2 separate regions of the Homo sapiens genome follow, and region 2 is linked to region 1. Evidence: fine-mapped expression QTL. A gene starts in region 1. The other region holds a variant in brackets. All regions are shown on one strand. Distances are between the middles of the regions.

Region 1 (16,236 bases):
ATTATGTTCAATAACATCCTACTGGCCTAAGTAAGAACGATGGTCACTTAGCCAGGTGTCGTGGTGTGCGCCTGTAGTCCCAGCTACTCAGGAGGCTGAGGCAGGAGAATCACTTGAACCTGGGAGGCAGAGGTTGCAGCAAGCCGAGATTGCGCCATTGGACTTCAGCCCGGGCAACAAGAGCGAAACTAAGTCTTAAAAAAAAAAAGGCCTCACTCACTGCCGACCTGCCTCGCCACGCCCCGGGCATGCCCTGCCACCACCTCACAGAAATGCTTCGGTTCCCCACTGTCTTTAGATAAGACCATTGTCCAGGGTATTGGTTCCTCATCTCACTCGGGCTTATGCCAAAGATGTAAAATTCAGTGCAGATGCCTGAGCCTTAATGCTTCAAGGTGTAGACCTTTTAGTCGATGCTGTAGCCATTACAATGGGGCCAAAGGGAAGAACAGTGATTATTGAGCAGAGCTGGGGAAGTCCCAAAGTAACAAAAGATGGTGTGACTGTTGCAAAGTCAATTGACTTAAAGAATAAATATAAAAATATTGAAGCTAAACTCGTTCAAGATGTTGCCAATAACACAAATGAAGAGGCTGGGGATGGCCCTACCACTGCTACTGTACTGGCATGCTCTATTGCCAAGGAAGGCTTTGAGAAGATTAGCAAAGGTGCTAATCCAGTGGAAATCAGGAGAGGTGTGATGTTAGCTGTTGATGCTGTAATAGCTGAACCTAAAAAGCAGTCTAAACCTGTGACCACCCCTGAAGAAATTGCGCAGGTTGCTACAATTTCTGCAAGTGGAGACAAAGAAATTGGCCATATCCTCTCTGATGCAGTGAAAAAGGTGGGAAGAAAGGGTGTCATAACAGTAAAGGATGGGAAAACACTGAATGATGGATTAGAAATTATTGAAAGCTTGAAGTTTGATCGAGGCTATGTTTCTCCATACTTTATTAATACATCAAAAGGTCAGAAATGTGAATTCCAGGAGGCATATGTTCTGTTGAGTGAAAAGAAAATTTCTAGTGTCCAGTCCATTGTACCTGCTCTTGAAACTGCCAGTGCTCACCGTAAGCCTTTGGTCATAATCACTGAAGATGTTGGTGGAGAAGCTCTAAGTACACTTGTCTTGAACAGCCTAAAGATTGATTTTCAGGTTGTGGCAGTCAAGGCTCCAGGGTTTTGTGACAAAGAACCAGCTCAAAGATATGGCTGTTACTACTGTTGGTGCAGTGTTTGGAGAAGAGGGGTTGATCCTACATTTTGAAGATGTTCAGCCTCATGACTTAGGAAAAGTTGGAGAGGTCATTGTGACCAAAGATGATGCCATGCTCTTAAAAGGAAAAGGTGGCAATGCTCAAATTGAAAAACATATTCAAGAAATCATTGAGCAGTTAGATGTCACAACTAGTGAATATGAAAAGGAAAAACTGAATGACTGGCAAAACTTTCAGATGGGATAGCTATGCCAAAGGTTGGTGGGACAAGTGATGTTGAAGCGAATGAAAAGAAAGACAGAGTTACAGATGCCCTTAATGCTACCAGAGCTGCTGTTGAAGAAGGCATTGTTTTGGGAGGGGGTTGTGCCCTGCTTTGGTGCATTCCAGCCTTGGACTCATTGACTCCAGCTAATGAAGATAAACTAATTGGTATATAAACAATCAAAACAACACTCAAAATTCCAGCAATGACCATTGCTAAGAATGCAGGTGTTGAAGGATCTTCGATAGTTGAGAAAATTATGCAACGTTCCTCAGAAGTTGGTTATGATGCTACTAGGGTCGGAGATTTTGTGAATATGGTGGGAAAAGGAATTATTGACCCAAGAAAGGTTGTGAGAACTGCTTTATTGGATGCTGCTGGTGTGGCCTCTCTGTTAACTACAGCAGAAGTTGTAGTCACAGAAATTCCTAAAGAAGAGAAGGACCCTGGAATGGGTGCAATGGGTGGAATGGGATGTGGTATGGGAGGGGGCATGTTGTAACTCCTAGAATAGTGCTTTACTTTTATTAATGAACTGTGACAGGAAGTCAAGGCAGTGTTCCTCACCAATAACTTCAGAGAAGTCAGTTGGAGAAAATGAAGAAAAGGCTGGCTGATGTTTAAGAAATCATTATAACCATCAGTTACTGGTTCAGTTGACAAAATATATAATGGTTTACTGCTGTCATTGTCCATGCCTATCAATACTTTATTTTGTATTTTTGAATAAAAAGACATTTGTACATTCCTGATATTGGGTACAAGAGTCATGTACCAATGTACTGCCTTCAACTTAAATAACTGAGGCATTTTTACTACTATTCTGTTAAAATCAGGATTTTAGTGCTTGCCACCACCAGATGAGAAGTTAAGCAGACTTTCTGTGGAGGGTGAGAATAATTATGTACAAAGTAGAGAAATATCCAATTATGTGACAACCTTTGTGTAATAAAAAATTGTTTAAAGTTAAAAACAAAACAAAACAAAAAAGAAAAGAAAGAAAAAGAAAGATGGCCAAGCCTAAAGTCAAGGTACAGGGAAACACACTCCAAGTACCATAAAGGGTGGATTGTCCAATTCAATTGAGGAATGGAGTGAATAACTGAAATTAATAATCTCACCTACCACATCATTATACCTGGATTCCAGGACGAAGGAAAAGGGACAAAGGAGTGCATCTGTCAGCCAAATCAGCATCTTTAAGGCATCTACTGAAAATCCAATACAACACTTACAATTATATTTCATTGGCCAGAAACTTTTCATATCATCACTCCTTGCTGCAAGGGAGGCTAGAAAATGTATTTTTTTTAAATTGCAGGTGGTAGTATGCTTAGCTAAAAAACATTTTTTTTAAAATACCGGATCAGAAATGAAAATAGGTGTTGAGTAGGCAATTAGCAATTTCTTTGCCAATATTCAACAAGATATATCCCTCACTCTTGTGAAGTAATCTGATAACTTAAGGTGTTCATTGTGATTGCTTGATATGTGTATATCTAGTTCGTATTTAAATCATGATAATCCAGCCAATAATTAAACACTGTGAGATTGCTGCTTTTGCAAGGAAGAAAACACAAGTCATCTGATCTCTCCTTTACAAAGCTTAAACCTTTTTACTAAAACTCAGTTTATTTAACTTTTATTTTCTCCTAAAATATAGGTGATAGGGCCAGGAAGAGTGGCTGTTAAAGAGAAAAGTAAGTGATTTTAAAAAGAAAGTGTGTAAGTATCTCAAGGACACTTGTCTCCCAGAGAGATTTCCAATAGGTTCTTCCTTCGGGTTTTTACTCAAATGTTACCTTTCCCAACCACTCAACTTACATAATCACATTCCCTTTTTCTTGGTTCATTTTTCTTCATACTATTTATCACCATACTTGTGTATTTTATTATCTGTCTCCCCCTACTAGAAGGTGAGTGACTTGAAGGCAGGGCATTTGTTGTGTTCACCATTGGTGAACTGGATTGCTGAAAACTGTCCTTGATGATGACTTCAGAGTACCTGGCCAACAAACCAGCTAGAACCAGGAGTTATTTTTTGCACAGCAGCATCATGGCATGGCTGTTGCAGCCATTTTGGAACCTTGAGGCAACAAGTCTGAGGAGAAAAGGCAAGATGTTGAAGGTGGCCATGTGGAATCATGGAAAGAGACTGAGTCCTTAACGTCATCCCTGAGCAGCTGAACACACACAGAGGAGCCTTCTTCCAGGCTTCTTGTTATGTGTGATAAAGAGAAAGACAGCCCCTGCCATCTGGGAGCTGGTCTGGTTCTATCAGCTCGGCCTTGGCGTTCTGTTGAGCATAAACAATTTCACAGAACAGCAACATCAGACCCAACAGACAAGACCACTTTGTGACTTGATTGATAAAGGCAAAAGCCAGACCACTCTGTAATCATGTCAACGGCCCTGTGGAGAGAAGGGTATGGCTGATCCAGTGAATTTATTATCTGACGCAGGAGAGATCTGGGAGTCAGTACCCGGGAATATGGGTCCCCAGACCCCGCACTGCAGACCTGAGGGACCTGCAAATATGAGGAACAGGTGTGTGGTGCTGGGAAGAGGTACAACAAAGCAAGGGGCCATCGAGCTGCCTTCAGATGGTACCAAGAAGCCACTAGGCTGGAGGAACGTTTTGCAGCCTAAGTCTTTGAGACCATGGGTGTGGACCAGAGTGTAAGCAGGTCTCTGAATCTGGGGGGCAACAAGGGTGTTAGAGTAGAACGGCCCTGGGACCTACGGTCAGTGTATCCAAGGAGCGGGAATGGGATAGGAGGAAGGAAGTGGTGTGGAAAGTCTGGCCCCTGCCCTGCAGGGAGGCACGAGGATGGCTGGTGGTCCTGGGGTCGCCTTTGGGCTGCCACCCACCCACAGAGAACAGGGGCAAAGCGCACGTTCAAAACCCAGCGCAGCCAGGTTCCACCGCGGAACTGCGCGGGGAAGGAGAGCAGAAAGGCTGGACTCCGCTGACCGGGGAGAGGCGGGACCGCCTTTGGGCGCTCACTGGAGAAGCAGGGGGTGTGGGAGCAAGTTCAAAGCCCGGCCCCGCCCGGCCTCCAGGGCCAGGAGCGGCGCGCATGGCGGGACCGGCGCAGAGAGGGCGGCTGCAGCTGGTGCGCGGTTGCTAAGTCCCGCGCCCCCGGAGACGTTCCCGGTGGCTGTCGCCGGGCGCTGCGCGGCGCGGGGCTGGCAGGCGGGCGGCGGGCGGCGGGAGGGAGAGAAGAGGGAGAGTCGGCGCGGGCTCGTGGCTGCTCGTCTCGCCCCGCCTTCCCGCGCCTGCTCGACCGTCGAGCCGCGTCCCCGCGCTGCCACCTCTGCTCCAGGCTCTCCCCGAGCCCGCCGCCGCGCCATGCCCGCCGCCACTCCAGCCCCGCAGCCGCCGCCGCCCCCGGCCCGGCCAGCCCCAGCCTGCCCGGCGCGGCCTGCCCCGGGTGAGTACCGTGCGCTCCGGCACCGACCCGTTCTGGGCGCCACCTTGGCGGGGGCGGGAGGACTCATTCGCCCTAACTCTGGACCCCGCTCCGTGCGGGATGTAGCAGCAGTGCCAGACCCCGCGTGGGTGTACGGAGGACTGTGTGTGTGTATGTGTGTGTACGTGTGTATGTGTGTGTACGTGTGTGTAAACGCGCGCGCGTGCGGGTGTACACCACCTGAAACCTGCTTTCTAGGGGAATAACGCTCTCCGGAGCTGATTTTATTTCCCTCGCCAGCAGGGGGGCCCTTCCTGGGAAACGCACTGGGTGTCTTTCAAGGTGCAGGTGCGGTGAGGCTGCAGAAGGGAGAAGGCGCAGGGAGGGAGCTGACATTTATTGTGCAACTCAACATGCCAAGCGCTTCACCTAGAGTTAAGCGTATTTCATCCTCTCCACAAATCTGTAAAGAATGGAATTATCCCCATTTCTCAGATGAGAAAACTGAGGCCCACAGAGCTCGTGCCTTGCCCAGGGTCACACGGCTCCATAGCAGCGGAGCTGGAGTTGGATCCAGGTCTCTAGAGGTCTCTGACCCATCTAAATGACAAGAAACCCTCCTTAGAACTAAAGAAACACAGAAGAACCAAAGATGATTAGGAAAAAGGATACAGGCAGAGCATTTGGGAATTAATATAAAAAAATCTGAGCTCGTGAAATATCCTATCAATTAATTTCAAATATAGGATCACATTTACACTCCTTTCCATGTCTGGCCCTGGGGGCGAGGTGTGGTGAGGAAGGGAGAAGGCTGTGCCAGTCCTTGGCAGAGGCGTCTGGGGACACCTTTTCAGAGTATCTGCCTGCTGGGAGGGGGGAAGTGTGTGAGAAGTTGTGGAGGGAACTCCGTTGTTATTCAATCCTAACAGTTAGTCATTCCTCCACCTCACCCCCTCCTAGTTGATTCCATTTCCTTTCCTTGATGTATTGTCCAAGATGACAGCTGTTAAATTGAAGCAGGGTCCCACCTTCATCATTGGCTGTCATAAAACCTCTTGGCATTAATTAGGTGGCCCTGCACTTTGATGATTGTATTAGGAGCTGTGAAGTGTCTGTGTAACTGCTTACAGTGGAGATCTGTTGGGCTGATGTTGAGCTAATGATCTTGATCAATGAGGCATCTACAGCAATAGGCAAGCATTGTGCTTATCCTTAGGATAAAGTAGCAAGAAGCAAGACCCTCAGGAAGAAAAAAAAAAAGAAAAGAGTATTGGGTTTGCCTCACAGCCCAACTTTAGAAAAGCATTTCAATTTAATATTTAAATTGCTTCACTGAAGAAAGAACAAAGAGGGGCAGAAAGTGTTTTCTGAAAGATGTTCTGTAACTCCTTTCATTTAGGTTTGAAAGATTTTTGAGTCATGTTCTTTTATGGTGAGCTTTGCCATCTTGGTGCGTATTGGTACCCTGGGTGCCTTCACTTCCAATTGCCAGTCCCTCCATCTCTTTGTTGGAGGATGACCCTTGGGCGGCAGAGCCTATGTTTGTAGGGACTCAGAACAGGGAGTGCCTGGGAATTTACATCTCCCCTGGGGCAGCCCCTCCTCAATGACTGATGGGTGCTGGAGTATAAATAGTCCAGCTTCTTTGCCCTTGATTGGGACACTCTGAAGCATGACATCCTTTGTTTCCAGAGATCCAATGTGGAGTTGTGTCAAATTGACCTCTATGGTTCTTTGCTTGGCTTGTTTCCCTCGCTTGGCTTGCTACTTTTTCTTGTTTTACTTCTTCACATCCCTACCATTTTTTCCTAGGAATATCTCCTAATACACTTTCATAGGAATTCTTATCTCAGGATCTGATTCTAAGGAATCCAGATAAAAACATGGACCCTTCTCACTGTCAATGTTTTTATTCTTCCTATGTTATCCAAACATGACTAACATCGGTAATAGGTAGCCCATGCTAACCTGTAGGGTGCCTTTGTATGAATTCACAAAAGGTGTTCCCTTCTGGGCAGATGGATCCCCATGCCCAGGCAACGGATTGGCAGACAGGTGTTCAGTGTCCACTAGCCCCCTGATCAGTGCTTCTTTGGCAGTGCACACAGTACTCAATGATCATGGTGGCGTGGTGCTCAGAAAAGCAAAAAACAGAGTTGCTTAGTTGTCCCAGGATCTCATTTCTGGCTTCTCTTTTTTCCCAAGAAAAAATCCCCCAAAGAGGGATTTTCCCCTTTTTTCCCCTAAATATTTGAATATTTCAGGCAGATGTTTTGGTTTTCTTTGGACAAGCCAGTCTTAGTTTCTTTCTAAAGCCAACAAAGGGGAGGAAAAGGGCTGCTTTGGCTGGTGGAATCTCAATCCTGCAGCCTGCAGGCGGGTGGTGGTGCCTGGTCAGGGAGGGTGGGTAGGTCTCCACCAGCCTCCAGAAGTTCTCAGAGGGGTCTTGTCTTGACGGTGAGGTTACTGGGTAGGGGCTTGGATGGGCTGCTTTAGTTGGAGGCTCTTGCTTGAAGACGTTTTCCTTTCCTTGGATCCAGGAGGGTCATTGTATCTGATCTGGCATCCTGAGTTTCCTCACCTTTTCCTTTGGTGGCCTCTTGATAATGTCTAAATTTTGCCCGTCTGCTGGTGGAGCAGAGCCCCTTTTGAAGATGCATACGTGGGGGAGTTCTTTGAAAAGAATGTTTTTGTTAACTGCTTGGTAATGTAGGTCAGAAGAGAGAAATCTAGGGAAAGTGAAAGAGTGGGAAGAAGACATCTGTACTGGGAATTGGGGAGGGGAGTTTGGCTCCATCCTCAGAGTTCTGAAGCCTCCTGGTGACCTGGGGCAAGTCACTGAACTTCTCTAGGAACCTCAGTATCTTCACCATTCATTTAATAGCAATTGTTCAGCCAGCCTCAGAGTGTTCTTTGATGGTCAAAGGGGAAATATTTTCATGGACTCATCCAGTGATTATAGGGGAAGCCCATAAAATCTTTATACAGAGACAACTGGCAATCTCTTGGGGACAGTGGTGTATGTAGAGGCATCATGATGTGGATAGCAAGTGGTAGAATAGAGATAATCACCAGATCAGTGGCTGCATGAAGGGACAGGGAAGTCTCCAGAGCTGCTTGGGCTGGTTTTGAAGGCTAAATGTTGACAGAATTTGCAAAGGGCAGGGTGTCATGTAGTGTGTAGTTATGGAGGTGAGTCCATCAGAATTGCTTTCACATTTGGGCTCTGGCCCCTCAAACCCATGTGATCCTGAGCGAGATACCCAACTACTCTGAGCCTCGGTTTCCTTATTGGTAAAATGGGCATATTCAAATTGCTCTGAGGATTTAGTGATGTAAAGCAATTACCAGATATTATTACAAATGAAAAGTATTGTTATTAAAGTTACCTTTTAGCTGAATGGATTCTGTTTGGCTGCCTGGGGCCAGTACTTTTTGAATATTGCTGGACATATGAATCATCTGGGGATCTTATTAAAATATAGATTCTGATTCAGGAGGTCTAGGGTGGGGCCTAAGATTCTGCTTTTCTCCCTAGCTCCTAAGTTCTGTAGATGTTGTTTCTTTCTTTTTTTAATTATACTTTAAGTTTTAGGGTACATGTGCACAACATGCAGGTTAGTTACATATGTATACATGTGCCATGTTGGTGTGCTGCACCCATTAACTCGTTATTTAACATTAGGTATATCTCCTAATGCTATCCCTCCCCCCTCCCCCAACCCCACAACAGGTCCCGGTGTGTGATGTTCCCCTTCCTGTGTCCATGTATTCTCATTGTTCAATTCCCACCTATGAGTGAGAAAATGCGGTGTTTGGTTTTTTGTCCTTGCGATAGTTTGCTGAGAATGAAAATGTGGCACATATACACCATGGAATACTATGTAGATGTTGTTTCTTTAGGGACCACATTTTGAGTACAAGGCCCTAGGCTACTCCCTCTTGGGTAAAGCCTGAGTCCTTTGTGGGACCTGAAGAGCACTGTGTTTGGAGAGATGATGGGGAGGGTTCAGGCCTCCTAGGCAGGTCTGGCCTGGAGCTGGGGTAGAGAGAGCTAGGAATTGCTGCTGTTGAGTAGGATGTTCCTACTGGGTAGATAATGGATCAAACCCAGCTTCCTTCAAATGCCCTAGGACCAGCCTCCTGGAGGAAATTCTTCCTGGCCAAATGGCCAAATACTGCCTGCTCTTGCATGCTGGCCCTGAGGATGTAGAGATGAATAAGCCATTGGCCCATCACTGCCCCTGCCACAGTGTGATTGCGGGGAGTGGGTGAGGAGGTGTGAGACATAGAAATGTACGATTATGATATGGTGAGATGAGCACTCTGTGGCGTTAGGGTAATGGAGAGGCAGGTAAGAGAGTTAAGAAAGGGAGGAACCCTTCCTGGTGGTAATTAAATCTGAACTGGGTTTTGATGGATAAATCACTGTGTCTGGGATTGGAGGAGGGCAGAAGAGTGTGTGGAATAGTATTCTAAGACTGAGGAACAGCATGTGCAAAAGTAGGCTGCCATGATGAAACAGCTTGGTGTGTTCAGGTCACTGAACTAAGAGTTGTTTGGAGCATGGAGTGTGATGGGGAGGACTTGATCAGGGAGCAGAGCTCAGTTCATGAAGTGTATTAGTCAGGAGGGTTTTCTAAGCTTTGCTGCAGTAACAAATCAACTTCATCATCTTGGTAGTTTAACTCAACGAAGGTTACTTCTCACACACAATGTGTGTCCCTCACAGGTCAATTGATAGCCAAGTAGACAGAGCTTCTCCCAGTTTTCAGCCTTGCCATCTGGAAAATGTGGCCACTGTAGTCACCAGTGCAGGAAGAGATAGAGGGAGAGTGTCTCTCTGGCTCGTCTGGAATGAATGCAATGTTGCTTTTGTCCACAGCCCATTGGTCAGAACTAATTGTGGGCGCAGGGGGCTGGGAAATAGGGGATGGCGGCTGGGATGGAAGAAAAAGTCAGAGAATATCAACTCTCCCACATATGTCTTGTTATGAAGCTTAAGCCTCATTCTGAGGCCACAGTTTCTCAAATAAGAGTAATATGGGAATTCCTTTAAAGGAAAAAAATTCTTGTAGATTCCTAGTGTTGCTTAAATTATTTTTATTATAGTGCAGTTCAGATATGTAGTAGTTTTACATGGGTCTAAACTCTTTATACTTAGAGCTTTCATATGACCACATAACCAAAACAAATATATAAATAAAATATCAACACAGCTACAAGTCAAATACATTTGGATTAACCTCATGAATTTAATGTTCTGGATGAAGTTATTTTTGCTAAAATGAAATCCCTATTTCTGGTTATAACAGCTGTTGTTCAGGTTCTTATGAATTTGGTGTGCAGTGTGCCATGCCACAAGGTTTTATGATGGCTCAATTTTCTCATCAGTTTCCTTTCTATACACTAAACCTGATTTGTTATTTTCTCATTGGCCTGTGATAATTAAAATAATGTTTCTTGATGCCAACTGTCTCAGTCTGTTTGTGCTGCCATAGGAAAACACCTGAGCCTGGGTAATTTGTAAAGAACAGAGATTCTTTCCCAACAGTTCTGGAGACTGGCAGGCCATGATTAGGGCACCTGCAAGCTTAATGTGTGGTGAAGGCTTATTCTCTGCTTGTTGCTACACACTCCAAAGGGGATGGACCTTGTGTCTTCACACAGTGGAAGGAACAGGAACCAACAAAGGGCCTAAGCTATTTCTTTTCAGCCCTTTTGTCAGTCACTCATCCATTCTTTAAGGTAGAGCCCTCGTGACTTAATCACTTCCCCAAAGCCCCCACCCTTCAATATCACCACAATGGGGACTAAGTTTTAACATATGAATTTTCCGGGATATTCAGACCATAGCATCAACTACAGTATAAATGCAAGAGTATATATGGTGAAATTATGTGGTAGCACTTAGTCATAACATGGCCATTCAGATGATCCAGAATATGTTTCTATTGATTCTTAAAAAAAGGTGATCATGAAAGTGAAAACAGAAAGTTAAACAAAACACAATTTTGAGAACTCATGGACCCTCCTAAGATAGGTTTGAGGATCTCCTGGAATTTGAGAAACAGCTGGAAAACTACTGGAGTGTTTAATGAAGGGGACATAGATGACCAGCTTTATGGTTCAGAGACATCACTTTTCCCAGGGTGTATGGGGTGGCTGAGGGGGAGAGAGGAAGGCTGAGACAGCAGAATCTGGGGAGGCTTGCAGGTAGCTGAGCTAAGATGTGATGAGGGCAGGTGCTCAGATGTAGTTAAGGTAATGGGAGAGAGGAAGCATGGATTTGAGAGACACGCAGGAGCTGGAATCCACAGGACTTTGAGGTTGACTGCGATGTGGGAGGGGATGGAAGGGAAGAGGAGTCAGGGATGACTCTTGGTCTTGGAGGTCGAGGGTGGTTGGTGGTACCACCGACCAGGATGAGGACCGCAGGTGTCAGATGTCCATGGCAAGAACAGAAGAGCTCAAGACCAGAACTGTGTTCTGCCGTATTCACCATCCCATCTTTTCTCACTGATGTGACTTTTCCTGAACCAGTTTCTGAGAAACTGCTACATCTTGCAGTGTCTATTTTTCTTCTATGGGACATTAATTAGTGCTCATTAAGATGATTTGAATGGCTTTATTAGCTTTTCTATTGTGCTTGCTGCTTCTGTCCTGTAGGAGCAGATTCTGGCAATATTACCTGATTAAGCACATACTTTTTTTTTGTTTTCTGTATGTTCAAAGGAGGTGAAAAAAATTGAGAAAATTGTGGATGGTTCTGAGCTAGAAGCTGTCATGCCATATAATGTGAGATTAGTTTTCTGCCTTCAGTTTTTATTTTAAGAGCACAAACGATCAACTTTCCACTCTGTGTTTTTGGATGGAGATACTGAAAATTCTTTGAGGAATGAGTAGAGGTTAAATGATCTCTAGGTAATTACATAAGAAGTAAAATGGAAACACTGCACTTTGGGGAAGTGGAGGGCAGAGAACACAAAGCCACACAAACAGACAAAAATTTCACAAACCGAAAATAAACCCCTGTGGTTTCTAGAGTAAAATCTCATGTTAATTAAAATTTTGGCATTACATATTTTAAAATGTAACTTGGTATTTACTTTTTGTATAAATAATTAACCTAATGCACCAACTGATGGAGGGAAGCAACATGAGCAGATTGCCAGAAGTGGCTTTTACTTTCCTGTTCCCACTTGAGAAACTTATGCTCTCTCCTGGTCTCAGGCATTGTTTTCATAGCAGAGCCTCTGAGGCCCTCCAGGGAGATGTGTAGCCTCCCCTGGAGGGCCTCTGAGTCTATCTGGAACTTGTGATAAAGGTTCTGTGAGCGAAGGCATACCTGTCACCCCCAGACACCACATGCCACTTGAGGATGGCACCATGTTTTTTCATCCCAGAATCCCCCCAGACTAGCAGGGCATTTCCCCTAACAGCAGTTTCCATACCCACAAGCTAGTCCAAGGCACCCTACAGGAAGTATCTTTGGGTCTCAGGGTTGGTTGGAGCAGCAGATTTCCTAGCAATAACAGCCATAACTTTTTGGGAATGTCTCTTCCAGGAATGGGTTAGACAAGGCTGGTTATTCATTTTAGTTCAGATGTTGTTTCGGTTTCAGAGGGCTACAACCAAAGTCCCCTGGAGCTTGGGTCTCTCCATTTGTGCCAGAGGCAGTGGTTCTTGCCAGATAACCCATGTGCTCCCCTTCTTTAGCAGATGCTATCAGTCCCTGTCCATGGTCCCTGAGCACACATCTTTCCTGTTCTGGTGGTTCCCACTGCAAGCCACTGCAACACTGTTGGATGACTTTCTTTGGTTGCAGGGGCATGGTTGGCCCCCATCTGGTGCACACACCCAGAAGTGCTGGGCAGCTAATGTCCTGGGAGCAGCCCTCAACCACCAATGGAAGGGAATGGATGGGTGAATATCACAGTTTCCTTGCCCCTCTGGAAGGATAACTCTGAGGCATGTTCTACTCAATCTCTCCAGAGGTTCCCAGCAGAACTGAGCCCAGGTTGGCCATAGCAGTAACCTACTCTTTCATGCCACTGTCCTACTTCACTTTTCCACTCTCCTCTAGTGCTGTCTGAGATCACCTCCCAAATCAACCCATATCCTTGCCCTAGGCTGTGCTTTTGAGAGAGACCAACCCAGGAATCTTTTGGGGTGGTTGGGGTTATGTGACCAGCTCTGGCCACTGGACTGTAGGTGGAAGTGCCATGTGTCACTTCTCATTCCAGGCAGTTGAAAGCCAGGATACCACTATTGTCTTTCTCGTCTGCTGCTGGGGCCACCTTGGAGGCCATGTGCTTTGAATGGAGGATCAGAGATGGAGAAAGCTGCTAGGTTTACACTGGGATTCATACAAGCAAGAGTCTTTTATTGTGGTAGCCCTAGAGCTTTTTGATATTTATCAGTTGGGGCACCTATCTATCTGATAAACAGTGTCACACTGTCGTTTTTTGGGTGCCACCACTGATGTCAGCCCATCCTCCACTTCTCCATCCTACACTGGTCCATAAGAACTCTTGGGATCTGCTACCCATGACCTCCTTTAATGCTTCTCATTTCCAAACTCCCCTCCTCTTCAGTAGTTTGATTAATATTAAAGTAAAATTTATGTTTCTCTATGGTTTTTAATTCATCTGGAAGTTATTTTGTTATTATTTGTAAAATAAGAATCTAAATTCATTTTATTTCCAAATTATTAACCAGTTGTTCCAATATTGAATAAGAATCATTCTAACCTTCCTGGCTAGTTTGTAATCACCTTTCATTATACGTTAAATTCTCATATAAAGTAGTATCTATTTTGGAACTATAGTTTTTTTTCTTAAATTCTTGTGCAAGTACCAAGACATTGTAATTGTAGCTCTGTAATATATTTTACTATCTTCATTACTCACTACTCATCTCCTTCCTGTCCTCCCTCAAAAATTGTATTAGTGTTTCAGTTGCACAAAACCTACAAATTACAAATGGGAAGAACTGATATGTCTATTAGGCTTTTACATTCTGGAATGGACAGTCATTTAAACGGCTTTTCTAATTCCTCTCACAGTTTTGTAGTTTTCCTTATGTTGCTCATACACATTTTTTGTTAGTTATTCCTAGCAATTTTCTATATGTTGACATATAAATGTATAAATTTTTTCATGTGTTTTTCAATTTATTGCAGTTATGTCAAAAGCTTGTATGTACATATAAGCTTCACTATACATATAGAAAATTCATAGATAGTTAATATATGTAATTAATGATTTTTTTTGCCTTATAGCTGACTACTTTCTAATTATATTTGGAAGTAAAAACATATAAAAACTATTTCATGAGAGTCCATGTACTCTAATTGCCTTTCCAGGTGGCTCAGAACAAACACATAGGTATGTCCTAGAATTGAAATAAGTTCATGGAGACAGGGAAAGATGGAGAGAAAAGATACATGAAGGAGTTGGCTATGTGGTAGCAATCATAGGTTTTCTCCATCACAGAACATGTGCAGAGTTACAGGAGCCATGAAAACAAATAGCTTGGGTTCATTGTGGGTTTTCTCTTTGAGATATAATCTCTCACACATTTAAAACTTACCTGTAAGTGTCTCTGACTGGTCCTAGACACTACTAGCACCAAATCAAAGTCTTCTCCTAGATGATTGAAACTTGTCAGTAATAATGTGTTTACGTTTTCGGTCTGGATAAGAAAAGATGATGTCAGAGGATGCCACCTCTTCAGTAATGTTAAAGACAGGCCTGGCAGGTCAGACTGTTTAATGTAAAATAAAAGGTGACTACGTCCCTAACAGGGGTCTTACCTTGTGTTCAAGTTAAGAAAACCAAAATCAGTGGGCTTATTAATTTAAAAAGAAAAGAGAAACAGAAAGAAATGAAATACATTAGGTTGAAGCTCCTTTTTCTTGGAGTCAACTGATGTCCAAGGATTGTAGATCTCCAAGTCATCTGATTTATAAGGAAGCTCCTAGTATTAGCATATAAGTTTGCTATAAGCATAAAAGCCATGCATTGGCTGCTGGGAACTTTTAGTGCTTTTTCTTTAATGCCATTGATAATATTAACTTAGAATCCAAAGAACTGACCATTTTCTACAAAGACTGCATAACTGAAGATGTTTTACTGGTTTTGAAGATTATATTTTCCAAAGACATTCTGTAACATGAATGAAAGACAGGAATACATACTCATATTAAGAAGTGGGGAACAGGCTGGGCATCGTGACTCACACCTATAATCCCAGCAATTTGGGAGGCCGAGGCGCGAGAGGTCACTTGAGCCCAGGAGCTTGAGACCACCCTGGGCAACATAGTGAGACCCTATTTCTTTAACAACAACAATAACAACAAAAATTAGCTGAGTGTGGTGGCTCATGCCTGTAGTGTCAGCCACTTGGGAGGCAGAGGTGGGAGAATTGCTTGAGCTGGAGAGTTTGAAGCTGCAGTGAGCCATGATGGCACCACTGTACTCCAGTCTAGGCAGAAGACCCTATCTCAAAATAAATAAATAAATAAAATAAAATAAAGCATCTGAGAATCAACTGAAAGACCTCTGGAATTCCTGTGTTCTCAGGAATGCTTGTTAGTTACTTGCTTTTTTCCAATTGCTTTGTCTGCATTACAAGGCAAAAACGGCAGAGGCTTCTTGGTTCTCTTTATGTTTCCTTTCTTGCTCTTTTTTCATCGTGAGTACAAAGTGATGTCTTTATTAAGCTGTTTCCTTAGAAAGGAAAGTGGTGTTAGTGTTGAGGTGCAGAGGGCTAGGTAAGGAGACAGACTGGGGTCTTTGTATTTTGCTTCCAACATGTTCACCTGGCCACAAACGCGATGTGTGGGCTTTTAGTCTTAAGTGAGCATGTTAACAATCAAAGAAAAAACATACATGTTGGATTTTTATTCTATTGGGAGGAGGGAGTGGGACTTTAAATATCTGCCCATCTCAGAGGGGAAAAAAAGGAAAGTTTTATATTTTCTATGCTGCCTTGAATAACTGTCAAAAAACTCTCAGCAGTTTCTGGCTAGCTAGCTGTCTCCATCTGGAGGTTGGCATTGTGTTTTTTTAACCTACAATTAACTACCATCCACTAAAAATTCAGCCAGTAATAGTCATATCCTTTCATAGCTTCTTAAGAAGTTTTTCTTAAATGTTCTTACAGTTCTTTTCCTACCCTTGACAATATCAATTTTTAGTATAAAAGCTACAAAATTAGATACCAGGGACATCACTGATGATTACCATGAACTATTTGTTCATTGGCTCACATATATTTGTTGTCTGCTACATGCCACTGTGGTAGGCTCAATACTTTTAATTAATTTAAATTTAAA
Region 2 (16,236 bases), 52 kb before region 1:
CCACCATAATGGTGCAAAGTTTAAGAAGAGTTCACTGGAAAACTCTGTTTAACCCGATAGACTTTAATTCCTTTTGGTAGCAGATAAATCAGGCCTGCCATCAACAGACAGCTGATCCTTACTCCCACCCACCACCCAGGAAAATGCATTTCTCTGCTCAGTAAGAAGGGATAACCCATCAGCAAGGTACCAGGTGTTCTTGAGGTGGGTTGTTTAGAAACCTTCCTCCTGGTGCTGCAGAATTCTAACCCTGTTCAGGACTTTATGTCCTCTGTTTAAGACTCAGAATGTATCTTCTTATGGATGATGTGACCTGAATATCTGACAGGACATTTTAGGGGGATGGGCTGCAATGGGGAACAGGGTACTGTCATCACAGTATCTTTGGAGCAAGATCTAAGATTAAAATGTGGCTTCTCATACTGACTGTGTGAATTCAGACGCCTTACTTAAATTTTAAATTCTCTGAGCTCTGGGAATTTATAAAATGGAAATAATGGCACAAACGCATAGCTTGGTTGTAATTGCATTATTCTCCCTGTATTCCGACTTCTGTTTCACAGATGGACCAAGGATGTGAAAAGATTTCAGGCAGGTTCTCTGTTTCCACGGTGGCAGGGAGGGTCAGGATTGATGAGGAGCCCTGGGGCCACATGGGTCAGCTTTTGTGTTCCCTCTGTGGTGGTGGGAGCATTTCTAAGAGGGCTTTGTTCCAGGGACCCAGCCTTCTTTTAGAGACTGAGACTATTTTTAACCCAAGTTTTAGTGATTCTGTAGGACAGCTGTTTAAGGGAAATATGTAGGCCAGTCTGTGATTTTTGGAGTCATCATTTTAAGGTTAGGGAGTGGGATGGGGGAAGAGAACCAGAATAACTCTGGAGTTTCTGGAGGCATCGCAGAGATCTGCACCTACCCTGCAGAAAGCTGCAACCCAATTTACTTTGTGGCCACTCTTGAGGATCAGGACATAGCTGAGCAGACTAATATTCTTTTGTTATACTTCAAGTAAAGTGTATCAGTTTCTGCCCATTTTCTCTCCCATGTGCTATTACCAAATCATTATGGAGAAAAAGTGGACAAGAAAGGCCCTCACACACTGTAATGAGAACAAAAATCAGTCCAGCTTTTCTTGAGTGCACTTCAACAATATCTGTTAAAACTGAAAATGCACTCACCCTTGGATCCAGCATTCCCATTTTTTGTTTTGGGCAGTCCTTTTCTCTTTTTTATTGTTAGTTTTGATTGTGGTAAAATACAAATAACATAAAGTTGACCATCTTAATCATTTTTAAGTATACAATTCAGTAGTGTTACGTATGTTTGCATTGTTGTGCCACAGATCTCTAGAACTTTTCCATCTTGCAAACTGGAAACGGCACCCACTGAACACCAGTCCCATTTCCCCTTACCCACAGCCCCTGGAAGCCACCCTTCTACTTTGTCTCTGTGAATTAACTACTCTATTACCTCATGTAAGTAGAATCATATGTTGTTTGTCCTTTGGTGACTGGTTTATTTCACTTACCATAATGCCCTCAAGGCCCGTCCCTGTTGTACCAGGGGTCAGAATTTCCTAACTTTTAAAGGCTGAATAATATTCCATTGTATGTATATAACCAGCATTCCTACTTTTAAGAATTTATATTAAAGAAACATTTCTACAAGTTCCCAAATAAACGTTTACTTCAGGAGTGTCTGGGAGAGTGCAAGATGGGAGAAAATCCATGTATTCCTCAGGGGCATGGCTGAATACCACGAACATGGGTTGGTTTCTACCTAAATTTGCTGGTATAAAAATATGGCAAAGATCACTTGCTCATTGAAAACTCAAGCCACAGAGAAACCTTCTTGGTTCAATTTATTTCTTTACTTTGTAAAATGGAAACAAAAATTCAGTGCCAAATTGTTGTTGCTGGTGTCCTTAATTATTTGGTAAGAGTTAGATTTTTTAAAATAGTTTGGGTTATGTTTGTGGTCACAAAAAACAACTAAGAAATTTTTAGACAGCAAAATAGAGAGTTTCGAGAGGGAAAACATTTGTGGCCCAAAGAGGTGGTCAGAAGAGAACCCTCTGTCTGCACTCAGGTGTTTACCAAGCAATATTGAGAGCCAGTGTTGTGGGTTCCACAGCAGTGGTAGCCTGGCAGGAAAGGATCCTCCTCTAGACGTCCTTTGAGGTCTCACCTGGGTCTGGCTTGGCCCTGTGCTTCTCATCCAGTTGACCTGAATCAACTTTATTTCGAAGAGCTTTGAAACAAAATTTTTGAAGAAGCAGAAATCCTGCTAAAATAAATGTAGACTCTGGAGTTGCTGGGCTGTCAGGCTATATGTGCTGGAGGAGGTGGATCGTGGCCTGGGTCCCAAGGGCATACCTGGTATGCATCTCCACCCACCAGTAACTAAAAGGGAATCACTTAAACTGTTTGTTATGTACAACTTGAACATTATCATCAGATCCTTTGGTGTCCTGCTCTTCGTAATCTTGGCTTTACACCTCCTATTTTACTCCATGAGAGCATCCTTGTCCTTGAGTCTTGGGACTGATGGCATCCTCCTGCTTCCTTCCCTGACTTCTTTCAGTAGTAACAGCTGTCATGTACTGGGTTGAGTCCTTTGGTACTGGTGCATACAGGGACTGGCCCTGCATGAATACTCACGACACTCCCATGAGAGAGATGTCTGAGTACATCCATTATGCAGATGGAAACTGAGGCCCTGAGAGCTCTGTCTAGCTTTGTCCCCCAGGACCTCCATTCCAGTAGTAGCCCAGGCATTGGTAAGTTCGTTTGAACTGCACAGAAATAGAGAGGACAGAGGTTTTCTTGAGGATGAGAACACCTTTTTTCTATCTTCTACCCCACCACTTTCCTCCTTTCAGTTTCCCTTCAAGCAGATGTCAGCTTACTTCCAATGATCCAGAGTCCTTTGGCTGTTTTGACTGCAGGTCTGGCAGGTGCTAATTTGCCAATGGGAAGGAGCTGGAGCCGCCCCACAGCTGTTACCTGTCAGCTGCAGGCTGAGCTGCTCCCAAAGTCCATTTTCCTGAGTGAGAGCCACGGTGGTGAACCCAGTGTCAGGGATTCTTTCTCACTGTCCCATCTTGTCGGCCTTAGAGAGGGACCCCTGGGACAACAGAGGGCTTAGTCAGATCCAAGGAAGGGAAGGAGTCTCTTGCATGGATATTCCTAATTTCACAAGGCAGGTGGGCAGAACTACAGATCAGGTTGGTGACTTTTTCAACTTCGCTCAGAGCTTGGTCAGGGCTAGGGGTAAAACATGGATCTCCTCTGGCCGGGGCGTCGAGATGTCAGAACAGCTGGATGAAAGGCAGAAGATGCACCCTGCCACCCTGGGATTTGGCGTGCCTGATGCCAAGCATTGGAGTCCTTGGAGCTGCCCGCAGGACTGCTGCCCTTGATCACCAACTCTCCTCACTTGTCAGAACTCAGCTATTAGGACCCCAAGTCAGGTCAGGGCTGTCAGGGAGACCTCGGCTTGTAACTGACAGATGCTGGGCTGTCAGGCTGTATGTGCTGGAGGAGGTAGGAGGTGGCCTTGGTCCCAAGGGCACAGCTTTTGAGTGAGAGGACAGTTGCCAGGGAAAGGGGATGCATGCCCTCTCCTGTCTCTCTGTGTGTGTGTGTGTGTGTGGTGTGTTTTGGGGGCTGAGGCACAGAGGAAGAGGATGCATGTGGCTGAATTTCTTATCCCTCTGTTTCTTCTTTGCATTTAATTCAAAGGCCAAAAAAAAAAAAAATGCATAGGCTGCCTGGGGGTGTCCAGGTGGAGTTAAAGCAACTGCTGTTTAGTGCATGTGAACTTCAGTCTGGGAATATATCTGAGGAGTCTTTGCCAAGGGACAAACACTGCTTTTTCTACGTATATTACAAGAGATATTTTAAAAAAGTGAGAGACTGCAACCTGAAGGGCTCTAAAATCCTTTTATCACCCTTGTTGGGATGAGAGTAGGTGTGTGGGAGTGGGGTCCTGTGGGAAAGGGGAAGGGGAAGGGAAGTTCTGCTCAGTGGGGAGGGCACTGCCTGTTTGGCAGAAGGAGAAGAGGATTAGAGGCCTTCTTGCCTAAAGCTGTCACCCACTGAACAATGGCCAGGTGTTTTAGTTTGCTAGGGCTGCCATACAGTGCACTAGGCAGACTGGATGGCTTAAACAGCAGAAAGTTATTTTCTTATGGTGGTGAGGCTAGATGTCCAAGACCAGAACATTGGCAGGTTTAATTTCTTGTAAGGCCTTCTCCTCGGCTGGGAGGTGCCTGTCTCCTCCCGTTGTTTTCACAGGGGCTCCCTCTGAACCTGTCTGTGTCCTAATTTCCTGTTATAAGGACATCAGCCATATTGAATTAGGGCCCACCCTAATGGCTTCATTTAACTTAATTACCTCTTTAGAGACTGTCTCCAAGTACAGTCACATTCTGAGGTACTGGGGGTTAGGACTCCAACATATGAATTTTGGGAACACAGTTTAGCCCATATCATTGGTAAAGGTGTTGGTTTTTTTGAGCAACACTTAAAGGAGAATAGGTTTAGTTGAGTCCATTAGTCCCGCTTCACAATCACAGAGACCAGAACCTGTGATGTGACAGGGGAGCATGAAGCCTGTTCTGTGGGCACTGCCTTCTGCCTCCATTTCTGATTCTACTTCCTGGACACCTCTACCCCTCCTGCTCCCTCAGTTTCTCCACTGTGCTCAGGACTGCACAAGCAAAGATAGTGGCCCCAACACCTATTCCAAGGACCAGCTGGGCCTCTCCACCCTGATTGTCTCACTGGCACACTGAACTTAGCATGCCCCAAACAATAATGCTCTGCCCGACCTGCCAGCTTTTCTTCCTGACTTCTCAAATTTCATTAAGGGCCATCCTCGATTCAGACAGGAGCCTCAGAAGCTGATTGCCTCCCTCAGTGAGGCTGTGACCTCCCCGAGGACAGGGCTGGGGCTCTTTTATGCCACATCCCCCATACCTATGTGTGCAGCCCTTAGTAAGCACCCAAGAGCTCTCTGGAGTTCAAGGGAATGAATCAATATCTCTGTTTCAGCCCCAAGGATACATTCTAACCAATCATCATACCTAAGAAATTGCTCGATTTCATCCTTCCCCCCTGCAAACATTTATTGGCCACTTACTATGTGCTTTGACTTCCTTTTATAGTCTGAAACTTAGCTGGGTGCTAGGGGTGCAAGACAGAGAAGGTGCTAGGAGTGGCTTCGAGGGTACACTCACACTCCCCCTTTCCCAAATCCTTGCGTCTGTACCGACTCAGGTCTTCATTCCCTCTTGCTTGGATAACGGCACCCACCTCCCAGGGCTGCCCAGCTTGCCCTCTTATTTGTCTTAGACACAGCTGCCTGCTTCTTTAAGCTTACCTTGACTGTATCGTTTCATTGCTCAAAGGCAGCAGGGTGCCCGCAGCGTGTAGCCTGACAGTCAAGCTCTCCTCAGCCTGCTAGTCCAGCCTCATGTCCCATTTCACTCCCTTTACCCCTAAGGAACTGATGTACCAGCCTCCCCCTTTCCTAACAGCCCCCTGGAGACATGCCCCACTTCCGGCTTCTGCGCCTTTGCCCAGTGCTAGTGTCTGCCTGGAAGTCCGTTTCCCACCTAGACTCCCCTGTTGAAATCCTCTGCCTCCTTTAATCCTCTTCTGCCAGAACACCACCTCCAAGAAGCCTTCCCTAACCCTGATGCTCTCCTGCTGTATTGTAGGACTTTGGAGTGGAAGGTAGAAGAGAGCTCTCATGCACACACCTGCCTCTTTCTAGCCTGCATTCTCCAACGTAGCAATCACTGTCCACCTGTGACAATTTAATTAAAAATGAAGTTAAATGGACAGTTTGGTTCCTCAGTCGCATTAGCTACATTTTAAGTGCAGTGTAGCTATATGTGGCTAGTGGTTACTGTATTGGATGGCCCAGGTTTAGAACATTCTCATTGCCCAGAAAGCTCTGTGGGGCTGTGCTGCTCTAGCGAAGAGCTCCTAGTGGCCTGTCCTGGTATTAAGCAGGGGGCTGGCCTGCAGTAGGTGCTCAATTTTTTTTCAGTGTTTATTGAATTTTTTTCAATGTTTGTTGAATTGAATTGGACTTTCGTTTCCAAGGGAGTAAGAGAACCAGAGGATCGTCAAAGAGAATTCTTTTGAGCCCTTGAACCAGTTCTGCAGACTTCCAAAGTGAACTTACAGCTGGCCCTGAGGGGCAGAAGGCAGGAGAAAAAAGAGGGGAAGGCTGGGAATGGAGCACCTACTGCTTGCTAGGCCTAGTGTACAGTCAGTCCAAAGTTTGGTGGGGCTGGTAGGGTGTGTGTGTGTGGGTACAGACAATGCTATTCTAGACACATTTTCCCGTCTAGATGAGATGTATTTTTGGCTCACAGCTTAACACAGAATCAGGGCCAAGAGTGTGCACTTGAGTGGGTGC[A/G]TCTGAGACTGTCAGCGTTTGAGTGCGGCCTCCTTTGTTCCCTGTCTCAGCAACTCCTCTGCCCTGAGAGCAAGATGGGTGAGGGGCCAGGCCACCTGAGCTAAGCCCTGAGAGGGGACCTGGGGAAAGCAAAGAGAACAGGGGGAGGCCCATGGGGAGGAGGGAAGAGCAAGGCTCCCGGCCTTTTTCCAGCCTGAATCTGGGGCTGTGTGTCAGTCTTAGCTTCAAATAGAGGCACCTCCCTTGCAGCAAGAAGTAGCTGGTTTCTCTGGGAAACCCAGTCTGCAGGTCCTCTGCTGTGAGTGGGAGGCTCTGAGCTGTCAGGCTCAAATCAAGAAGTGGATCATTTCCCCTATCAGACTCTGTTGCCTTCCCCGTAAATGCTCCCAGGAATTAATATTGCGAGATGATGTTGACGCCTGGGAGTCAGTCTATTTCTGGACAAAATATTGGCACTTAGTTCCTTTTCCTTTGAGAAGGCTCATGAGAATCCAAGCATAGCAATAATGGCCTCTATGTGGAGTGTCCACTAACTGGCGTTTGTAATCAAATGTCTCAGGTATCCTTGTACTTAATCTTCCTGGTAACCCTGAAAAGTAGGCAATGTCCACTTTGCAGATGTGGAAACTGAGGTCAAAGACATTAAGCAACCTGCCTTTTCCTCACCAGCTTCTAGTACACTGCTCCATGCCTCCCTAGCACTGTACAAATAACAGGGATTTTATTTGCTGCCCCCACTGTGTCCATGATAGCTTTCAGATTTGCCCCTCCTGCTAGCCAAGCCTGAGCCCAGGACACTCCTGATGCAGCATCAGGTCCCACTGACTCCTGCAACTTCAGCCACACTTTTAACCTCCCACCACACCCTGGCATCATTAGTCCTAAGCAGCACCCAGCAGAGATGCCACTAAAGAAAGGTGACAACTGTCAGGCAGGCCGTGAAAGCTCCTTGCTGCTTACCAGCGTCTCCAGCTCACTCTCTACCACAGGCAGGCATCGCTTGCCTGCTTCTCCCAGGCTCTTCGCAGCCAAGCTTAGTCATGCCCCTACTCGCTTCTCTCACCTCAGAGACACCGCCTACCTCATTTTTACTGTGCTCCCCCATCCCCTGAGGCAGACTGTATTTTCCAAAAACAGACACAGCAATATTTCTAGTCCACATGCTGTCCCAGCACTTTTACACTCTTCATCAAGAGATGGAGTCTATTTCCCCCTCCTTGAACCTGAGTGGGGCTTTGTTACTAACCTAAGGAACAGAATATAGCAGAAGAAAAACTGCATTATTTCCAAGGTTAGGTCATAAAAAATGATATGGCTTCCACATCATATGTAACAAATTTCATGTTGTTAGATATTTAGATTATTTACAATATTTCCTATCACAAGGGTCTGGAGAACACAGCTGCCATGTTATAAGGAAGCCCATGTAGCCAAATGGAGAGGCCGCATGTAGGTGTTTTAGTCAACAACCCCAGCTAAGGTGTCAGCTCACAGCCAGCTTTGACCACTAGACACGTGAGTGATCAGGACTTCAGATGGCTCTAGCCCCTGGCCCTTAGGCTGCCCCTCATAGATGCCAAATAGAATGGAGACAAGCTGTTCTCACTGAGCCCTACCCAAATGGCAGATCTGTAAGCAAAATAAACCAGTGTATTTTGGGGTAGTTTGTTATGCAGCCATAGCAACTGGAACACCCTCAATGGAGTTTTAATCCAGATAATTAATAATTGATATACCCTGTATCTGATTTTTTCCCCAGGATGCCTGCCTCTAGCTGCTTCTTACTACATATTCTGTGAGAAAAAAAAAAAATCCATAAGGCCACAGGGACTATGAACTTGAGTATTATAGTTTTCTAAAAATACTGTCTTAATCCAGGGTTGAGGCCCTGGCTAGACGCTGGTCAGTTCTCTGTCTTGAGCATCCAATTAAATCCACATCCTCAGCTACCTCCTCTACTAGGCTCTCACACTCAGGGCTACCATACACCTGGACTGCTCTACCCCTGCCCTAATCACCCCAGGGCCAGGTATCAGGTGACTAGGGACAACCCCCATGCCCCAGAAATTATTTGAACTAGCTAATTCTGGAATGGCTTAAACTAGTCAAACTAGCTTGCTTACCCTGCCTCACGCATTCCTTCCCACAGAAACCATAATAAAGGCACCTGCCCACAGGTGCCCTTTCTCCCTCTGCCTCATGATCAGCCTGGAGCTTCACCTGAGCATCCCTGCATGGTGTGCTGTGTTCTCCCAGGGACCTGTGAGTACAATAACTGTTGAATTCTTTCCTGTTTCTCTCTTGTAATCTGCTTCTGGCCTTACCACACTCCATTCAAGGTAATATGGTTAAAACACCTTGACACCATCCCTGTTGGCTGGCAATTGTCATGTAACAAACCACCTTAACAATTATTTATTTATTTTTTAATAACAGACGAGCTTTATTTTATTCTTATCCATTTCACAAAGAAAGAAACTGAGGCTCCTTTGCTTCTCTGCCCATTTGCATTTTCTCGCTGCACTGCACAACTTCCTGGCCAGAAGTCAAAATGATTGACAGGCAAGAGTTAAGGTGTCAGGGAAAAGACCACTACATGATCTATAGTTTCATTTATGTATCCACAGTCAGTTTTCCAAAATCCCCCAGGTAGTCCTAAACTTTCTGAATCATCCAATTATTCTAATAAGCATTTATTGAAAATCTGTGTGCTTAATTAGGCTATAAGAATACAAAGAATTGAGATAGAGTACACCTTGGAACACATTGGGATTTTTTGATTGACACTGGGTTGTTCAAAGGGCAATTCCTCTTCCCTCTTCCTTTTTTAAAAAAATTTATTTCAATAGCTTTTGGGGTACAAGTTTTTTTTTGTTACACGGATGAATTATATAGTGGTAAATTCTGAGATTTTAGTGCACCCATCACTCCAGTAGTGTACATTGTACCTAATGTGTAGTTTTTTATCCCTAACCCTGCTCCCACCCTCCACCTTCTGAGTCCCTAAAGTCTATTATACCACTCAGTATGCCTTTGTGTACTCACAGCTTAGCTCCCACTTGTAAGTGAGAACATATGGTTTTTGGTTTTCTACTCCTGTGTTACACTTAGAATAATGGCCTCCAGCTCCATCCAAGTTGCTGCAAAAGACATTATTTCATTCCTTTTAAAGGCTGAGTAATATTCCATGGTGTCTATCTACCACATTTTCTTTATCCACTCGTTAGTTGATGGGCACTTAGGTTGGTTCCACATCTTTGCAATTATGAATTGTGCTGTTATAAACATATGTATGTAAGTGTCTTTCATATAATGACTTATTTTCCTTTGGGTAGATACCCAGTAGTGAGACTTCTGGATTAACAATTATTTAAAACAACAATTCATTATTAAAGCTCACAGGTTATGAGGTTGAACTTGGCTGATCTTAACTGGACTTGCTCATGTGTCTGTAAGTCCCCTGGAGGTTCTGCTCAAGGTTGGGGTTGGCTCAGGCTGAGAATGGATACGCAATCTTAGCTGCAATCAATCTGGTCCACATGACTCTTATTCTTCTCCTGGGACAAGTGGGATCCTTAGGCATGTCCTTCTCATGGAGATAGCAGAAGCATGAGGAACAAGCTGAAACACACAGTCTCTGAAAGCCTAATCTTACCACTGACATCTCATCACTTCCATTTTATTGTATTAGCCAAAGCAAGTCACGTGGATGTCAGGGGTAGAATTATGTCCCTGCTACAGCGAGAAACCACTGAAATTTACCTGACAACAACAAAGGGCATGGATACAAGGACTGAAAAATTGGAGTCATTACTACAAATATACAATATTTCCCAATAGCTACTGCACTTGGAGAGTTTGGTCTGGTCTTGGTTTGGATTGGTTCTCAAATAACCTCCTCTTATTATTTTTCATTGAGCTTAAAGTGGATACTTTGGATAATATATTTTAAAATTAATTATTTTTGACTGGCTTTTTATTTATAGACATATCAATTATGCTCATAAGGTAAAATATTAAAATAACACCAGAGAGTATACTATGTAAATTAAGTCTTCTTTCCTCTTCTCACTGCTGACTTCCTAATTTTCCTTTCAACACTATTACCTTTGAATTTTTCACTGAATAACTTATCTATATGTATGAGTATATAATGATCTACCTCATTTTTTCTACATTTACAACATATGTAACAAATCTTATGTTGATAGACATTTACATTGTTTCCAATTCCTATCACAAATAATGATGTAGTTAATAACCTTGCGCATTCATCTCTGCATACATATGAGAGCAAATCTACAGGATATATTCTTAGAAATAGAATTGGTAGGTCAAGGTACATGTGCATTTGAGATTTTGATAAGTTTTGCAAATTACCATCCACCGATGGTTAATTTCTGCTACCTTGTACAATGTATGAGAAACATATTTTCCTATTTCCTTGCCAATGTGTTATTTTGCTTTTTGACCTTTGCCAATGGAGTAGTTATATCTAGCAATCTGAGTTTTAATATTCACTTTTTATACTATCAGTTTGTTTATGATAACTTTTTCAGACATTTAAAATCCATTTGTGTTTATTTTTCAGTGAGCTGTCTATTCATATTCTTTGAGGATTTTTCTTTTGGGTTTCTGTTTTTTTTTCTTATTTACTGTATATATTTGCCATGGACTGAATGTTTGTGTCCCCTCAAATTCATAACCCCCAGTGTGATGGTATTAGGAAACGAGGCCTTTGGGAGGTGATTAGGTCATAAGGGTGGAGCCCTCAAGAATGGAATTAGTGCTCTTATAAAAGGGACCCCAGGGCTCTCTCATCCCCTTTCCTCCATGTGTGAGCAGAGTGAGCAATGTGGCCTTCTGCGACCCGGAAGAAGGCCCTCACCAGAGCCTAACCATGCTGGCATCCTGACTTCCAGGCTACCAAACTATAAGAAGTAAGTTTCTGTTGTTAATGATTCACTCAGTCTATGGCATTTTGTTATAACAGCCTGAAAGTACTAAGACAACATTCTTTTTGTTTGTTTGTTTGTTTTGAGATGGAGTCTTACTGTTGTCACTGAGGCTGGAGTGCAGTGGCATGATCTCCACTCACTGCAACCTCCACCTCCTGGGTTCAAGCGATTCTCCTGCCTCAGCCTCCTGAGTAGCTGGGATTACAGGTGCCTGCCACCATGCCTGGCTAATTTTTGTATTTTTAGTAGAGTCGGGGTTTCACCCTGTTGGCCAGGCTGGTCTCAGACTCCTGACCTCAGGTGATCTGTCCGCCTCGGCCTCGGCCTCCCAAAGTGCTGGAATTACAGGCGTGAGCCTCCGTGCCTGGCCAGCATTCTTTATATGAAGGAAAATTAGCTTCTTACTCATCATGTCTTGCAAATATTTCTTCATAGTTTGTAGTTTGACTCTGTTTAGTTTTTAATTTGCCTTGCAGAATTTTCTTTATTTTTTTCTCCCTTCTTTGTTCAGTCTTCTCTGTCTTTTTTGCTCCTTCCAAATTGGTTTATATTTCTGCAATTGCTTTATTTCCTCTTTCCTAAGTTTTGATGTTTTTTCATATTATGTTGAAACATCTTCTAGTGTTGTTTCTTCCTTGAATATTTTATTTGGCTTAGTGCTCTTGTTTTAAAGAGGTGATTATTTCATTAATTTCTTAGGTTGTGGTCAAATATTTGGTCACAATTTTCATTTGCTCCATGGCAGTATGTTTCTGATGTATGTTGTTTTTTGCCCTGTCCTGTTCCTCATATTTCTTGCTCTTCTTTGCAGCTGTTGTCAGGAGAATCAAATGGTGGGTCCCAGCTGATGGGTTCATAGTGAACTTGCTTATACAGCAGTGTGTGTGTGTGTGTGTGTGTGTGTGCATGAGTGCATGTGTGTGTGTGTGTGTGCATGAGTGCATGTGCGTGTGTGTGCGTGTGTGTAATTTGTTAAGCTAATAGAGACTGGCAGCTGCAGAGATGCTCATAATTCAGTCTTTCCTGTATCCACCTTCAACCACAGAACTCTTCCTGCAAGATAATGTGTCTCTTTATTCCTGTCTTTGTCTTCAGCCTATTTCCCATGCCAAACAGAACCCAGGGAATCTCCTATAGCCAGCCTATAAGCTGATCCCACTGTTCCAGGGACAGAGTGTTGATTCTGCTTTCAGAGATATGCCACCAGCATTAGATCTCTGTTTTGCAGGATTTGTCTGGGAAAGCAATAGCAGGTGTTTTTGCTCAGTGTCTTCCTGGTGTAAGAAAAATAGAACTTCATTTACTTTCTGTATTGTAATTTAATGGCCAGCACAATCCCCTATCCAACCAGTTAGTAGGAAAATTCAACTTCAGTTCTTTTTGCATGTTTCTCCACATTTTCCTGAGATTATGTCAATGTTTGGAGTTATGCAGATGTTAGATGCTCCAGCAACACTTACTGAGTCTCAATCCTTATTAGAAAGAGTCCTAGGAGTGGAGTGGCGAGAAGAAACTTTAGAGCAAGTGAAAATCATCCATGAAGCAAGCTGTATTCTTCTGAGGTCTTCTTCTTCTTCTGTATTTTTATATACCGGAGCATTAGAGAGTACAAGTGATTCCTCAGTATTCATTTTCCCCTTCTGTTACAGCAATAGAATCCCTGGTGTTTACGCATGTTCTCACTATAGATGGGAACTGAACAATGAGAACACATGGACACAGGAAGGGGAACATCACACACCGGGGCCTGTCGTGGAGTGCGGGGAGTGGGGAGGGATAGCATTAGGAGATATACCTAATGTTAAATGACGAGTTAATGGGTGCAGCACACCAACATGGCACATGTATACATATGTAACTAACCTGCACGTTGTGAACATGTACCCTAAAACTTAAAGTATAATAATAATAATAAAAAAAAGAATCCCTGGTGTTTAACATTCTGGTGTCCTAAGTTCAAATGCCTATTCCAGCTGCATAGGTAAGGTCAGTGAAGCTGGTTGGGTGGGGAGTGTGATAAACAGGACAGCATGTGACCCTTCTAAGAAGGATAGTTATGGCCACGTTCTGGCAGCCCATTTCCAAGTAGTAGTAACCTGGTCAACATTGCTAATAAAGAGTATATTTATGCCTTCCTTTTATCTAAGGGTAGCCAAGTGGTTACGTTCTGATCAGAACTGGATGGAAACAGGATTAGTGTGTTTGTTTAACTTCTAGAAGTCGTTTAAGAAAATAAAAACCTAATGTTCTTCTTTTCCTCCTTCTTACTGTCTGGGATATGGACAAGATTGCTAGAGACAGGGGGACATCTTGGATCATAAAGTGGCATGGCAGAGTTCTAGATAGAAGGAAACTGGAGACTCACCATGAGGAGTGTCATACCAGCTCTGGATTGTCTGCTTCTGAACTTCCAGGAAAGAGAGAAATAAACTTCTGTCTAGTTAATTTAAATATGCTTTTGAGTGATGTGTTATTTGCAGCTGAACTTACTCTTAATTATTATATTGGAATCAAACTTTTAGCCTTTATCAGTCTCCTTCCTAGGTCCTTCTGTGAAGGGCACAATTATTATGTACCAGGGAATCTAATGGGAAAATTAAATATCTTTATTTCTTCCAGGCTTACCACGAAGGCAAGTAGATCTTTTGTCTTGGAAATTGAGGGTCTCCTTTGGATTGGAAAAGGTTGTGTTTTCAAAAGCCAAAACAGGTCCTAGGTTTCAATGCCTATTCCAGCTGTATAGGTAGAGTCAGTGAGGCTGGTTGAGTGGGGATTGTGGTGAACAGGACCGCATGTGACCCTCCTAAGAAGAGTAACCATGGCTGTGTTCTGGCAATCTGTTTCCAAGTAGTAACCAGTGTTGCCAGCTCTGGTTGATCGAAAGAAGCCAGAAATTCATATTTGTCAGTGAAATCTCTTAATTATAAAATCTTGGCACTAATTGAAAAAAATTCATTGTACATTCCAGACAAAAGATGTCAGAGGGATGAATCTGGCCTTTTGTCCTATGGGAGAAAGAGAAGGACAGCAAGAAGACAGAGAGGGAAGCTTGCTGGCTCAAGTTGGGAGGGATGATGAGGGGCTCTTTTAGTGAGGGGATGTATTCCATTCCCAAAGAGCCATATATAGAAGGTGTCTGGACTTCTGTTGGCTTAGTTGGAAGGTACACATTGGGTGCTATGAGCTCATTTATTTATTTAGTCAACACATATTTATTGATAATTCACTATGTGCCAGACATATGCCAGATAATATATGTGCATCCAGTAGATATAGGAGAAAAAGTTTCCTGCTCCATGTAGTTTGTATTCTGATGAATAAGATAAGTAATAGCTAAGCAGAGAGACAATGAGCAAAATGGTTTGAGTGTGGTGTGGTTTGTGAAGAAACAAACAAGGTGGTATAATGAAGAGTATTTAGGGTACGATTTCTGCTTCTGATCAGGATGGAGTAAGAGGAACTGAATTTACTTTCCTACTTTAACCAAAAAACATGAACAAAGTAAAAGACACAATGGTATACCATACTAAAAATCAAGAGAGTGATCCTTGAGAGATGAAAAACAAATGAGGTGAGCCCTATGATTGCCCCAGCTCCCTGCCTGGAAAAAGTTCTCAGGTGCTTTTTATAGCACCCAGAATTTTCATCTTGTTTTTAATGTAAACATAGTAAGCAAAGTCATTCTAAAGTCTGTGTTTGATATTCCAGAATCTGGAACTCCTGTGGGTCTATTTCTATTATTTGTTCTTTCTGCTAGTTCTCATCCTTGCTTTCTTATCTTCTCATCTGACTGATTATCTTTGATTGTATACAAGAAAAAACATTTGAAAAATTGTTTGTAGAAATAGGTGAAGCCTAGAATAATGAAAGTTTCCTCCAGTGTGGATTTTAATTTGTTTTGGCCTGGGGCACTAAAAATCCAAGATCACCTTAATCTGCCATAAGGGATTGAATTTTTCTGGATCACTCAGATGACTTCTGCACAATGAATGTTTTACTTCTGATTCACTCTTAATCCTGGGATCTAACCTTTTGGAGCCCCAACTTAAAGTGTGGGAGTTTACCAGGGACCTCACCCTTGGTGGGCTCTAGACTCTATTTTGTGCCCCTACATCCATGAAGGTGCCAAAGTGCAGCTTACCCTATTGATAGGCTCTTTTGGAACTGGCATGTGCTACCAGAAGAAGAGCGGTCCCAAATTCTGGGTTCCCCTCTGTTTTCTCTAGTCTCTTGCCAAGTATTCTCCACTAACTCCTTAGCTCCCTTCTGCTTTCATACTTTAACAGCTCTGGACAACCAGGAGGGATAGATAGAGATTTTTTTCTACATAAAGATCTAAGGCTGATGGCCACATGACATCAGAACTATAACTCTTGAATAAGAAAATAAAGAAATGTTGCCCCTTGATCTCTGAGAAGGCCCAGGCAGTCGGCAAACGCACCCTTAGGCTGGCCAGGGTGGCAGCGTCTAGGATGTTGATTTATCATCAGTAGCAAGAGATTCTCTGAGTAGCACCTCTCATGTGTTCCTTTACTGAAGCTGAAGAAGCTACCTGAGAGGCTTGTGGTTGAGGGTGTGTCAGAATTAAAAAGGGGCAGGAGAGGCATCCCCTTTACTCAAAACAGGTCTCCATGTCTCAGGCCAATAAACAGAGACAGCTAGTGAGAGCCCCTGCTGCTAGGTGCTTCTGTGACTGTGTGTCAGTTTGTCAGGCAGGGTGTGGGGCTGGGGAGCTCAGTGAAGACACAAGGGCTGATCAGCTGAAAGACAGGCTATGAATAAGAGACATCCAGTTATTTTTCTGGTTAAGATTTGCTTAGTCTAGTGTTAAGCATAGTTGCTGTTG

What was found. PIP is the estimated chance that this variant, and not a neighbour inherited with it, causes the effect.
Region 2: its variant is fine-mapped to the expression of DCLK3 in unexposed skin (GTEx, PIP above 0.99).

Annotation. Positions count from the first base shown.
Region 1 is chr3:36,752,862-36,769,097 of GRCh38, reverse strand. DCLK3 (doublecortin like kinase 3) reads left to right here and starts at 4,545. Exons shown (of 5, transcript NM_001394672.2): 1 at 4,545-4,916. The coding sequence starts at 4,835. LOC105377029 (a long non-coding RNA gene) reads left to right here. Exons shown (of 3, transcript XR_940721.2): 3 at 1-110. It also overlaps the pseudogene HSPD1P6.
Region 2 is chr3:36,804,736-36,820,971 of GRCh38, reverse strand. LINC02033 (long intergenic non-protein coding RNA 2033) reads left to right here. Exons shown (of 2, transcript NR_147141.1): 2 at 1-422. Among named protein-coding and RNA genes, the nearest start is that of LINC02033, 9.6 kb to the left of the region's middle. The variant A/G (reference allele first, on the strand shown) is at 6,433.